Linked DNA regions of Homo sapiens. The protein of the gene in region 1 purifies or fractionates together with the protein of each later gene. This does not show direct contact. Each region holds a gene or a part of one and is shown on either strand. Other genes may lie near its edges.

Region 1 (7,287 bases):
GTGACCATTATTTTTGTAGCCCTTATGGTTTCTCTGAAGTGCATCTTGAACTTGGACCTGAGATGACATGGGTGCAGGTGAGATGCTATAAAGCACAAGTGAGGAAGCAGGTAGAATCAGAGAAGGAGGAAAAAAGGTTAATAGTGGAAGGCCAACTGGAGGCTGCTTAAGCCTTTGGAGATTTTTGTATAACTGCCTCAGAGTTTTGTATAACTGCCCCAAATGAAGGGGAGCTGGGTGGTTTTCCATCTACAGTCAATCCTCACTGATAAAGATTGCCTTTATCTAAAAGGCTCCCAGAACTTCCCAGGTACACTGGTTAGGTAGGGCTTGGCAAGCTCCTGAGGTGCTGGAGAGCTGAGGAGAGAAGTAGTTGAGATGGGAAGTTGTCAGTGTGTTAACTGTGCATACCAGCTACAAGTAAACATTGAAGTGAGCTGAAAGGAGATGGTCCAGGTATCAACTCTGTGTCTTAACAGGCATTCTCATTGAATAATCCAGATGTGAAATAAAAGCCTCAATTTAGATAGAGACCTAGAAGAAATGTGAGATGAAATGTGGTTAAAAAAAAAAATGCCGAATTTAGAAACTGATAGAAAGTGAGGAGGGGAGCCAGGTGCTGTGGCTTGAGCCTGTAGTCTCAGTCACTTGGGAGGCTGAAACAGGAGATTTGCTTGAGCCCAGAAGTTCAAGTCCAACCTGGGCAATATAGAGAGCCTCCCATTTCAAAAAAAGTAAATGAAAAAAGTAAGGAGGGATCTAAGATGGTACTGAGGTTTAAAAGTTAGTTAACTTGTGAAAAAGAAGGGTTGACAGAAGGACACTGACTTTCAAATTAGTTTTTTAAGGAAAGTGAAAAAATTGCATAGTATTCAGGAGAGTGATGATAAGAGTGTTGATGACCAGTCATTCAAAAGGAAAGCAGGGTGGAGACTTGAACAATGCTGCCATCCCCACAAACTTATAATGTCTGGCCCATGCTGGATTATAAGCATTTGTTAAATTAATTTCTATCCCCCAGGGCTTATCACAGTCCTGAAATACAGTAATGTGGTGAAACTATAGGGCTGAATGTGACCTAAAATAAGACCATTTCCCACAGGTTTTAACTTTTATAAAATCCTAGAAGAGGAATTTCTTATATATTTTACTTTTTTGTGAAAGGGTCTCACTCTTGCCCAGCCTGGCGTGCAGTGGTGCGATCTTGGCTCACTGCAACCTCCACCTCCTGCGTTCAAGCAGTTCTCACCACTCAGCCTCTGGAGTAGCTGAGATTACAGGCGCACGCCACCATACCCAGCTAATTTTTGTATTTTTTGGTAGAAATGGGGGTTTCACCATGTTGGCCAGGCTGGTCTCAAACTCCTGACCTCAAGTGACCCTCCCACCTTGGATTCCCAAAGTGCTGGGATTACAGGCATGAGCTGCCATGTCTGGCTGGAATTTCTTATATTTTTTATGGAAGCATTACTGTGTTTAGATGAATCAGTTTTGATTAGTTTTAAAATCAATATTATAGTCTGGTAAACAATAAAAGAATTGATAATTTTTCTTATGGTGGTTCTCATTTGAATATGGTGATAGCATTTGTTTTCTCATATTCTTTCTTTCTTTTTTCTTTTTGCTCACAAGCTGAACTGAAGATTTAGGTTTTTCCATGTTTCTATGTGGTTTACATGAATATTTTTAATGACTGTTCCGTAATGCCAGTATATTAACTCTTCATCTTGCTCAAAAGTGAGACTTAGAGTGAAAATTATCATCAGCTTATTTGAGACTCTGTTAGAACTCTGTCATATTCATTAATTCATTTCTATTTCCTCTCTCTTCCAATATTTCTCAAAATTATTTCAACGAGATAAGGCTAGAATTGACCATATTTTGCCATTCATTATTGGACAGATTTTTAAAAATCTTTATAGGAAATGCTAATTAATATTTACAAATCTCATTTAGAGGATGTTATTTGGAATGAAGATTGCCAGATTGGAGCTATACTTTGGTATTATTAATAGTGGTAATGTTAAGAATAGATTGTAGAACACATAGGTTGTAGCCAGAGAACTCAGTTAGAAGACTGCGTATTTCTTTTAATAGCCTTAAGGCTCTCATTAATTAGACTCTTAAGGATCAATGAGACAGATTTTCTAGTAAAAGAGAAATAAAAAGATTAGCACTACATTTCTTTTTCTGTGTTGTGGTTTTGAATGAAAATTAAGAATGATTAGGTAAGTATTATAGGACTTTGTGGGATCTTCAAATCCTCACAGAGGTTTGAATGATTTTATTCTCAGAATATTTGTTTAAAGGGAAAGAAACAGTTATTTAAAATGCTTGTCAGCTGATTTCTTTTGTGAAAAGTCTCCCTGAGCACTTACTATGGATTGAGAATAAAATAAACTTTTCTGCTTGTTGTTGCACTCTTCATTGATAACTTCCTTCCATTCATCAGTTTTTTTGGCTTGCTTTTATTGGGTAGCAATTTTCTTCCATGATAAATATGGAAAGATAAGCCATAAGCTTATTCCTTCATTGTATTTTTGCTAAAGTGTAATATTTCATATGGTACTGCTGGACTAGTACTCGTGGAACCATAGTCTAGATTGAAACTGTTGAAAGACAAATCAATTTTTTTATAATCATAGAATCTTAATTCAATTCTGAGTTTTTAGTGCAAAGTGCTTGCTGTCCTTTGAAGCACCTCTGACAGTTACCCAACCTCTGTGTAACAATTATGGGGAACATGCTCCTTCCATGAAAGTTCATCTGTATTTGAACCGAAGTCTTCACCGTTGATTGAATATGCTGTTCTGACTTTCTCAAGTTGCACAGAAAAGAAAGGATCCCTTTGGTCATCATGTTCAATTGGAACATGTGTATCAAGTCCTGGCATCTTTTGCCTTCTGCTGTTTAAACATCCATGCTTTCAGTTCGTAATGGTTGACATTTACTGAGTACTTACTATATCACCCTCTTCTAAGTATTTTATATATACTAATATATAATATGTAATTATATATTAACGTATTATGTGTAATTATATAATTAGTTTAAAATATTATATATTAATCTTCTCCAAAACTCTAGAAAGTAGATATTTGTAATTAGATCAGTGTTTTAGATGAGGGAGCTAAGGCAAAGAGAAGAAACTTACCACTGGTCCCAAATCTAGGAGATAGTGGAGCCTTGCTCCAGAAACTTTACTCTTAGTACAGTGCTATCTTATAAGATACAGTTTTCAAATTATTTCTTTTAAGGTTTTCTATGAGAGGCACTCTTATTCTGTAGCTTTTAGTATTCTTCTTAAATAAAATACTGTATTCCAGATATAATCTACTTATTTTATGCGAACATTAAGATTGGCTATTATTTTTTCCCCTTTTCACCACTCTATTCAATTAAAAAATTATTATTTTTTTTTTGTAAAGATGGGGGGTGGGTATCACTCTGTTGCCTAGGCTGGTCTTGAACTCTTGGCCTCAAGCGATCCTCATGCCCCTGCCTCCCAGAGTGCTGGGATTACAGGTGTGAGCCACCATACCCAGCAAGACTGGTTACTCTTTTTATTCTGAAACCTTGAAACCTAGTGTTCTGTTGATTAATTGAGTAGGAATTGCTACTTCTTCAAGGGTCTAGAATCCAAATACCTGACCCCCTTTTTTGGTCTCAGTTTATATGGTTGATTCTTTGAATCCCAATGTCGAATATCACATCCATCATTATTAAATTTCGTCCTGTTAATTTTAGCTAATTTTTTTTATTTTTTATTTTTTGAGATGGAGTTTTGCTCTTGTCACCCAGACTGGAGTGCAGTGGCATGATCTTGGCTCACTTCGACCTCCTCTTCGCGGGTTCCAGCAATTCCCATGCCTCAGCCTCCCAGCTAGCTAGGACTACAGACGCACACCACCACGCCCTGCTAATTTTTTGTGTTTTTAGTAGAGACAGGGTTTCACCATGTTGGCTAGGCTGGTAATGAACTCCTGACCTCAGGTGATCCACCGGCCTCGGCCTCGCAAAGTGCTGGGATTACAGGTGTGAGCCACCACGCCCAGCCAATTTTAGCTTATTTTAAAAAATAGTTTAATTTTTCTTTAAAAACTTATTTTTATAATTTTAAGTTTATATTTTACTAGCCTGCCTTCTGTAGCTTTATCCAGGTTATTGTTAAAAATATTGAGCAGTTCTGACACCTGCTAGTGAAGACCTCCTGCATTCATATTAATCTTATATGTAACTATTAAATAGCTACCAATCCTTCTGACATAATTTTTTTTCTCTGTAATGTGAATCTGACTTTTTATGAAGAGCTTTACTTTTTGGAATAGACTAGGCAATGGAATTCAGGCAGTTTCTCAATATTAAAAGCTCCTTAGGTTACCAACTATGTCCTGATGTGTAATTATTATATTAAGGCCAGGCGCAGTGGCTCACTCCTGTAATCCCAGCACTTTGGGAGGCCGAGGTGGGTGGATCACTTGAGGCCAGAAGTTTGAGACCAGTCTGGGTAACACGGTGAAACTCCGTCTCTACTAAAAATACAAAAATTTAGCTGGATGTGGTGACACATGCTTGTAATCCCAGCTACTCAAGTGACTGAGGCATGAGAATTGCTTGAACCTGGGAGGGAGAAGTTGCAAGTGAGCCGAGATTGCGCCACTGCACTCCAGCCTGGGCGACAGAGTGAAATTCTGTCTCAAAAAAAAAAAAAATTGTACTAATAACATGGTTCCCTATACTTTTCCTAATATTAAAATTTGAATAGCTGATTGATTATCTTCTATTAGGATAAGGGGTCAGAATTTCAACCTGGAATTTGGAGATTGTACTACGAAAATATTCTCCCCTTAAAAGTAATATCTTCGGGCGCGGCGCGGTGGCTCAAGCCTGTAATCCCAGCACTTTGGGAGGCCGAGGTGGGCGGATCACGAGGTCAAGAGATCGAGACCATCCTGGCTAACACAGTGAAACCCCATCTCTACTGGAAATACAAAAAATTAGCTGGGTGTGATGGCGGGTGCCTGTAGTCCCAGCTACTCAGGAGGCTGAGGCAGGAGAATGGCGTGAACCCGGGAGGTGGAGCTTGCAGTGAGCTGAGATCGCGCCACTGCACTCAAGCCTGGGCGACAGAGCAAGACTCCGTCTCAAAAAAAAAAAGGTAATATCTTCAGAAGCAGTTTTGTTTTGTTTTTGAGACAAGGCCTAGCTCTGTCACTCAGGCGGGAGTGCAGTGGTGCAATCACAGCTCACTGCATGCAACTTCTGCCTCCTGGGCTCAGGTGATCCTCCCACCTCAGCCTCCTGAATAGCTGGGACTGCAGGGGCATGCCACCAGGCCTGGGTAATTTTTGTATTTTTTTGGGGTAGAGACAGGGTATTGCCGTGTTGCCCAGGCTGGTCTTGAACTCCTGGGTTCAAGCAGTCCTCCCGCCTCAGTCTCCTAAAGTGCTGGGATTACAGGTGCGAGCCACCATGCCCAGCCCAGAAGCAGTTTTGCATTTACTTTAATGCAGATGAGCAATTTAGCCACCGGAGCTGTACATCATAGAGCGTGAGTGCAGTCGTTTTCATCTGGAAAAATTTTCAGTTGGTGTTGCTGCCATCATTATTGGTGAGAAAACTTCCAGTAGTCCAGTTAGTGTGGCAGATAGAGGAAAAAGCTGCCAGATACAAGATTACAAAGATAAGGACAAACAGATAAAATCTTGTGCACTCTTTGTGATTTCCAACTTGTAAGTCACAAGCTTCTACAGGAGTCTTAGTTTTGCAAAATCTACTTCTGTGGATTGGACAATAGCATTTCCATATACAACCATTTTCTGTTTTTTTCTAATGTCTAATACTCATCTCCTGTGATTAAATTATCAGACAAGAATGGAAGCATACATGCCTTCTTTCTTTTGGTGTACAATTTGAGAAGAAATTGAAGTAGCTAAGAACTCCCATTGTCTTACCCTACTATATCTGAATGCCCTACCCTCAATAAACATTTGTCAAATAAAGGAATAAAAGAATGATTTTATTACCTTAGTAAATAAACTGAGTAAAACTAGGCAAAGAAAATACTAAGGGTTTTCTATTTTGATAGCATTGTATTATACGGGATACTAAATATCCTTGGGACAAATTGTTAGCCTTTGTTTACATGCACTAATTCTTTTCCTTTTTCTTTCTTTCTTTCTTTCTTTCTTTCTTTCTTTCTTTCTTTCTTTCTTTCTTTCTTTCTTTTTTAAGTCAGGGTCTTGCTGTGTTGCACAGGCTGGAGTGCAGTGGTGCAATCTTGGCTCACTGCAACCTTTGCCTCCTGGGCTCAAGGGATTCTCCTGCCTCAGTGGAACTACAGGTGTGCACCACCACGCTGGGCTGATTTTTCTATTTTCTGTAGAGAGATGGGGTTTCACCATGTTGCCCAGGCTGGTCTTGAACTCGTCAGCTCAAATGATCTTCCCGCCTTGGCCTCCCAAAGTGCTGGGATTACAGACCTGAGCTGTCATGCGTGGCTGCCCAGCCAATTCTTTCTTTCTTTCTTTTTTTGGAGATGGAGCCTTGCTCTGTTGCCCAGGCTGGTGTGCAGTGGCGTGATCACGGCTCACTGCAACCTCTGCCTCCTGGGTTCAAGTGATTCTCCTGCTTCAGCCTCCCGAGTAGCTGGGATTACAGGCACCCACCACTATGCACGGCTAATTTTTGTATTTTTAGTAAAGAAGGGGTTTTGCCATGTTGGCCAGGCTGGTCTCAGACTCCTGAACTCAGGTGATCCACCTACTTCGGCCTCCCAAAATTCTGGAATTACAGTCATCGCACCTGGCCCTGCCCAGCCAATTCTTATTAAATTGTTTAGATAATGCAAAATTAATAGCAGAGCAGAGAGAATGTATTTATGTTTTATTCTTTTTTTCATCTCAGCTATCAGCAGAGAGAATTTATTTTAATCTTATTTTTTGCTTGAGATTTTAGAAAAAAATATTTATCTTGGAAGTTTCTTTTCAATCCTCTGATCCCATTTCTTTCCTCTGAGGCAAAATAGTATTGCCTAAAAAGCAGTGAGAAGAACATCTACATTTCATTGGCAAATGCAGAATTTTTACTTTAGAGGAAAATACATAGCTTAAATACTTTCAGTAAACAAAGCGCTCAGTACTCATCTTTAGGGATTAAGAAAATAAAACCAGGCTGGGTGCAGTGATTCATGCCTGTAATTCCGGCACTTTGGGAGGCTGAGGAGAGTGGATCACCTGAGGTCAGGAGTTTGAGATCAGCCTGGCCAACATGGTGAAATCCCATCTC
Region 2 (7,287 bases), on another chromosome or scaffold:
TATACACATATACATATATGTATGTGTGTATACACACATACATATATGTATATAAGTGTATATATATACACACATACACACATATATATACACACACACACACTGCAGGTGTGCATGCATACATTTATTTTCTATTGTTTGTTTTTTGAGTCAGATGTATGTGTGAGTAAATTATCTTGCTAAAATTTCATGCCAAAACATAATAGTAAAAAATCAGATGTACAGTCTGCAAGATTTAAAGGAATAAAAATTACCAAAGATTTCTTACCAAACAACCCCTCCCCCCCCCAAAAAAAAACCCAATATTGCCAATATAGGAAATATTAAAATTATTGTATGGAATCTCTATGATGATAGAAGTAAAATAACCTGTGGAATTACGGAAAGGCGAGAGAGAAGTTGGATTTAAGTAAAGATGCTATGCACTATAAAGAACAAATCATAGAGCAGTCTGCATGTCTGCCCTTAAAGCGAATCCTGAGTGTCCACTGGACGTGGATGTGACGTATCCATGTGACCAAGTCTCTGTCCTCTAGAGGCCCATATTCTGAATGTCTAGACAGATAGATACTCATGTAATCATAAGTACAAGAAAAACTGGGTTGAGACCTATAGGAGAGAAAAAATGGCGATACCCATTTAATAGGTAGAGCTGTGTTGTCCAATATGGTAGCCATTGGCAACAGATGGCTATTTACATTGAATTTAATAAAATATAGTTTAAAACTCAGTCCCTCTTTTGCACTAGCTACATTTCTAGTGCTCAGTGGCCACGTGTGACTGGTGGCTGCTGTATCAGACAAAGTGGAGTAGACCATGTCCAATATCTCCAAAGTTCTGTTGGATAACACAAATATAGACAGATTGGCGAAACAAAATGAGAATGCAAAAACCACATGATCTTTATAGTATTTCTTAACCACTGTTAAACAAAACTAGAAATTAGAAATAAGAATCACAAAGTCCAGATGAATCAAATATTTCTGTTCCCTGACGGTTCATGGTTGAAATGCAGAATAGTTGAATTCAGTAGGATAGAGAAATTACACATTTTTCTTAAGATTATATTCACATTTACATCTTTAGTAACAAACATGTTAATTTATAATTTTTAAACATATCCAGTTAAAAACCAATGCTACAGGTGACTTGTTAATGTTGGTACCACTTTTGGACAACATGCATAAAATAATGACATTTTTACCATTGTAATTTAACTAATTTTTCTATTTAAAATCTATTTTAATTTAAAAATATGATTTCAGTTCTTCCTACCATTTTAATATTTTCAACTGCAGGCCATATATATATATATATATATATATATATATATATATAAAATGAATGTATATATTATGTATGTATATTCAGTTATTTAATGTCCAAATATTTCAATAGAGAGAAAACTGGAGTGGAAATGAGATATTAGATATTTAAGTATTATTTCAGGCTTATTTGATTCAATTACCCAGGTTACTATGATTCCTTTTGTTATTATTATTATTGTCATTTTATATTTCTTTGGTTGTCATTATGAAACCATGAGAAAATAATTATATAGCATGTTTTCCGGATAATGATTATCCAACAGGACTACAACAAGAACTAATAGAATTCTCCTTAGTACCATTTACTATCATTTTACCCCTGTTCCCATATCTTTTAAATGTAGGTATTTTATAAAATACCAAAATCTCAAGTTCTTTGATCTATGAATAGTTTTTTCCTTTGGATTTTTCATTTATGTGCTTTGTCTGTTGCTTCAGCAGCTAACCAGTAGCTTCAAATAATTCAGTAACCAAAGACTAGAAAATAAAAAGTTGACACATAAAGATATACATGTATATATTATTTTAGTGGAATTCCTATTAATGAGGTTATTAAATGAAAATTATTTTAAATTGGATGAATTGTTTACTTCAGCACTATCAGAAATTCAAATTTATTTAGTCTCTACAAATTCTGTGTACCCTCTTTTATTTTTTCAATTATTAATTTTCTTTAGAAAGCACATGTGGATATTTGGCCGTTTTTATTGATCTTATTTAAGCCCACTTGTACTTTACATAACGATTTTCTGATGACTCGCAAAGCTACGTAAAAAGAAATTTAAAAGGAATAACCACGCAGAATGATTTTTTCCTTTTCCTCTCCATTGCACATAGCTGATTGTATAGCAAATTATAACAACCAACTGGATAACAAACAAACAAATCTGATGCTCCCTGAGTCAACTGTTTATGGTGATGTGGACCTTAGTAACAAAATCAATGAGATGAAAACCTTCAATAGCCCAAATCTGAAGGATGGGCGTTTTGTCAATCCATCAGGGCAGCCTACTCCTTACGCCACCACTCAGCTCATCCAGTCAAACCTCAGCAACAACATGAACAATGGCAGCGGGGACTCTGGCGAGAAGCACTGGAAACCACTGGGACAGCAGAAACAAGAAGTGGCACCAGTTCAGTACAACATCGTGGAGCAAAACAAGCTGAACAAAGGTGAAGAGGCTTGCATGTATTCCCATCTGTTTCTGTATGATACTCTCAGCACCTCGACTAGATGTTGAAACTTGTCTGCGACTAGCAAGTAAAATCTTTTCTTCTGTCGCTGAGATTTTCTTATTTCTTTGGTTTCAAAATTTCCAGTGTCAAAGAGTTAATTAGCACAACAATAACCTTGGAAAATTTATTTTATAATAATATATAAGTATTTTCAAATGGTTTTGAGATTAATTTAAATTTAATAGCAGGTGAGGGATTGGGACGGACAATCTTTTATTCATGAGGCAGATGTACAACTGTCACAATACCTCGCATTTTCAATAAATAGACTATCCCATTCTTTCCACTAGAGGATGGAAGATAATTGCTTCTATGTGGTTATATAAACCAATGGCATTTTTATATCAACCTGAAATAAAATAATTAAATTAAACTTGAACTGGAGAAGTGGTTCAATTTGTTGTATGTCTCCCACCTCGTGTGGTTATTAAGACTGCTACAGTGTATAATTTTAGAACCTAAATTTCCTTGGTTGACCTGATTGAAGTCTGTCCGTATAGAACCTAAAATAAATTGAGTTTAGTATTAACTTGAAGCCGCAGAATAGTATTCTGTGGCCTGAAGGAAATGTTTCTGTATTGTAATGTGTATGAGTTGGAAAAGATAGGTGTTTGGTTTCTTTGTAGTCCTTTAGGCTACTGCTATAATATCATGATTTGCAAAGTTATACCTCTAGGAAAACCAGGATTGCTCTAATGTGAATAGATGGGGGCAATGCATCCCCACCTATTCCAGGTAAAGAATACACTGGAGATAATTGGAGACATAGACATTTTCTTTAGGTTTGGGTTGGGAACATTTTCTTTGAAAATGCGATTTATCACAGTTGAAGATGACAAAAATATAACTTAAAAATTTCATTTAAGTTAATATTATGTTTTAACTCGAGAATGAAGTCAGCTAGGCTTTTCTCAAGTTTAAGAAAGTACTTGATTGGTATAATAACCCAATTTAATAAATATGGATCGAGACTCCTGCATAAGTTCATAACAAAAACTGACAAAGATGAACAGGACAGTTTCTGTAATCATGGAGTTTGCAGTGGTGATTCAAACTATTGTCACATTATTCCTTCATAGTATATTGTTTTACTGTGGACTTCGGAAAGCCCTGAGAGCCTCCGCACAAATATTTCAGAACTCTGATTTATTGTTTATACTGCTTGTAAGCAGATTTGGTATGTCAGACCATAATAAAGAACCTGGAATGCAACTAGACGACAGATTATTACTGACTACATTCCAGTGGCAAGCTTATCATTTGGATTTTCACCTTTGCCTAAGTAAGCAGAAGCATTTCTGGGGCAAATTAAGATATTTGTTTTTTTTAATCATAGATATATTTTTTATTAGATATAACCTTGCTGACAGGTTTCAGTTTTATTTTTATGTATTGTGATTTATTTTTTATGATTTGCAGACATTTTTGTGATTCTTATTAAAATCATATTGATATTATATTATTAAAGTTATTTATAGTTTATATATATTTGGAGTATAAGCCTTTTTATATCCTGACAATCTGAATACAACAATAGAAGAGAAAAAAGGCAAATAAATGGTCCAATTTGTTTCTTTAGTTACTCAGAAATATAGAGAAAGCAGAGATGTGAAATCGCTCATGAAGAGAAAATAAATGTTTATTGTTTTTTCATCTGATATGTCTAGATTATCGAGCAAATGACACAGTTCCTCCAACTATCCCATACAACCAATCATACGACCAGAACACAGGAGGATCCTACAACAGCTCAGACCGGGGCAGTAGTACATCTGGTAAGTAAGATGAACCAAAGAACTTCTCCTTTAAAAAGCTGGTACTTTCCAAGATTACAAATTGAGTGCTAATGGACTGACGTATGTAGGTGACATGTCTAAATCACTGTATGTAATTTGAGTCTCAGGCATGTGTCTTGTCTCTGCAATTTGAGGGACTTTCCACTCACTAAATCATTTTATGTTCTATTTGGCAAAAAGACTAAGTGTCCTATTTTCTTCCTTGTTAATGAGCTTTAGCAAAGCCAGAAGAAACATGTCTGGTTAATCTTTAAAGGCAGTTGAAACTTTTTCCCCGTTGGCCAAAATATAACTAAAAATGTTGCACAGAGTTAACCTGCTAAATATGTTGCCATTTGAAACGAGCCTATAAAAGCACATAATGTTTGAGGACACTTGAGCAGAATCAAAAGCCGGAGAGACAATAACATGAGATTCAGGTACAATAGGAGCCTGTCTCAGTTTATCATCCCTCTACGATCCCTCAGTTCTTGCTCTGAAGCCTCGTAAAGCAACCTCCCAACCTCAGTCTGTAAGTGCCTCCCAAAGCCACATTGAGGCCTCTTCCCTGTGGTCTTCATGCTGTTACAGCTGTTTGCCAGCTGTTTTCCTGATAGGGGCTGCAGATGGGAGCTTGCTGGGTACTTAAGTCCTGTTTTTCTAATTAAAGGCAGTTCGTTATTAGAACTAACATGTGGCACATCACACCACAATGAGAACAAAACCGACTGATCTTGACTCTAGCAATGTTTCTCCAGGAGAGGGTAGAAATGCCACTTCCCAGCAACTGGATTAAAGTTGTTCTTAGGGGCTTTTAGCCAAGAGTCTCCACCCTTCTTCTGTAATGAATATGGCATTTGCATTTTACAGTTTTCCCTTAACTAACACGCTGGTCTGGCATTGTCTAGCCTGTGTTTCTGTTGGAATTAAGGGAGCTTAGAAATGGCCCTTTACCTTTTAGATTTACTCTGATTCTATTATATGTTATTTGTTTGTTTTAACAATTAACATCTTATTAAATGACTTCTTTTTTGAAGCTAAGTCAATCCTGAATTAAGAGAAATATTTCAAGGATCTACTTTTAAGAAAATCATATGAAATATTTTAATATTTGATTATCTTATGCCATTTGATCTTTGAATTTTTAGTCACATAGAGAAAACCATATCTTAATGGGAAAATAAACAATGATTCTAGGTTATTAATCTTTAATTGACCTTCAGCATCCCTCAGCTTAGATACCTAGATCTGGGTGTTCTACTGCTATATATCATTTGATATTCTGTGAATATATGGTAAAAAGATGTAAAGATGCGTGATGGTAATTAGGGAAGAGAACAAAGCAAGTAAATAAGGTATAGGAGAGATCTGTGATAGGCCTCTCCGGACTGATGGAGTTGCTACAGTAGATGTATATCAGGAAATCCAGAGGAAGATGTGGGTTAATGTCTAGTCTACAACACATGCACAGTTATCCCAATGCTGGACACCGGAGTGGTGGACGAGAGAAGTGAGAGACATACACATAGGACTGATAATCGTAGTTTATTAATAACAGCCTGTCCCTAGCCCACGCTTAGTGTGGTAACCTACCAGTACAAGAACATCTGGCTTAACAAACACTGCCATTTGACTGAAAATTCCCAAGTGACAAAAAAATCAAGGCTCATTGAATATGATCAGACCTGATTCATATATTACATGACTTGGAGAAGGATTGGATAGGGTTAAAAAACTAAGGCCAACATAATGCACTGATATAAAGGGAACTTATGAGAAAAATAATCATAGACTCATTGTCTATAATTCACATATGAATCAAAAATATAACATATTGGAAAGGGGATATTTTGTCCCAAAATATTTGTTGACCTAAAGTTTTTGTTAAAATAAATGCTCTCAAATATATAGCCTCTTGTGTTTAAAAAATATGCCAGATCTAAAATGAGAACACTGGAGCACTTGAATGATTGGGCTATGTCAAACTACTAAGAATGTTCAAGCAACATCATTTTACCATAAGCCATCATTGTACAGAAACAGTGGCTGAAAACACTTCTGTCCCTTTTAAAAATCATTTTTCTGCTTCTTTTGTCATTAGTTCTATCAGTTATTCCAGCTATTATTTCATCTGTACTTGCCTTTCTGAAGGGAACTAGTAATTTCATTGTGCCTAAAACATTTCAATGGACAAGTACAAATTATATATATTCAGTGATTTAATGCAACAGTGGAACTCTAATAGATCGTATCTGTATCATATTGTATTTTAAGTTCCAGCAATTAAATAATAGAAAGGCACTCGAGAAAATATATCTACAGCTCATTTGTTTGAGATGATAATCCATAATGCAATTAATTGCTGCAGGAAGATCACTATTAATGATATGACTTGAAACATTCATTCATGGTTTTATTGCTTTTTTGCTATTTATTTTGCAGTTATTCATGGCAGTACCTTGCATGTTCTCTTGTACAAAGTTCTGTTTAAAATTAATGAAAAAGCATGTTTATCTCTGTATATATAAATGAATTATAAAATCATATTTACAAAAAATAATTAACTTGTGACTAATGGAAAAAGTTTAAAGGCCAGAGATCAATGGCTTCTATTTTATTTCCTTTCTAGGGAGTCAGGGGCACAAGAAAGGGGCAAGAACACCCAAGGTACCAAAACAGGGTGGCATGAACTGGGCAGACCTGCTTCCTCCTCCCCCAGCACATCCTCCTCCACACAGCAATAGCGAAGAGTACAACATTTCTGTAGATGAAAGGTAAGAGGAGCATCCAAACAGATGTAAACAGTGTAATATGATTGTTTCAGCCCATTTTCAGCAATTATTATACTAGGTGGTCAAGAGAAGACTGATTCCTAAGGTCCACAAACAGTTGCCTTTAAATAAAATAGTGCTGGTCAGCAGGAAGTAAAAATTCTCCTTGCTGCTTCC

The links.
Region 2: the proteins of USP33 (region 1) and ROBO1 purify together in Homo sapiens (affinity purification with western blotting; 5 studies listed by BioGRID and IntAct, with this or other methods). This does not show direct contact.

Annotation. Positions count from the first base shown.
Region 1 is NC_000001.11:77,749,566-77,756,852, reverse strand, and holds part of USP33 (ubiquitin carboxyl-terminal hydrolase 33), read left to right. Parts: intron 1-7,287. UniProt on the Homo sapiens protein: Deubiquitinating enzyme involved in various processes such as centrosome duplication, cellular migration and beta-2 adrenergic receptor/ADRB2 recycling.
Region 2 is NC_000003.12:78,630,987-78,638,273, reverse strand, and holds part of ROBO1 (roundabout homolog 1 isoform a precursor), read left to right. Parts: intron 1-2,165; coding exon 2,166-2,501; intron 2,502-4,231; coding exon 4,232-4,339; intron 4,340-6,968; coding exon 6,969-7,113; intron 7,114-7,287. UniProt on the Homo sapiens protein: Receptor for SLIT1 and SLIT2 that mediates cellular responses to molecular guidance cues in cellular migration, including axonal navigation at the ventral midline of the neural tube and projection of axons to different regions during neuronal development.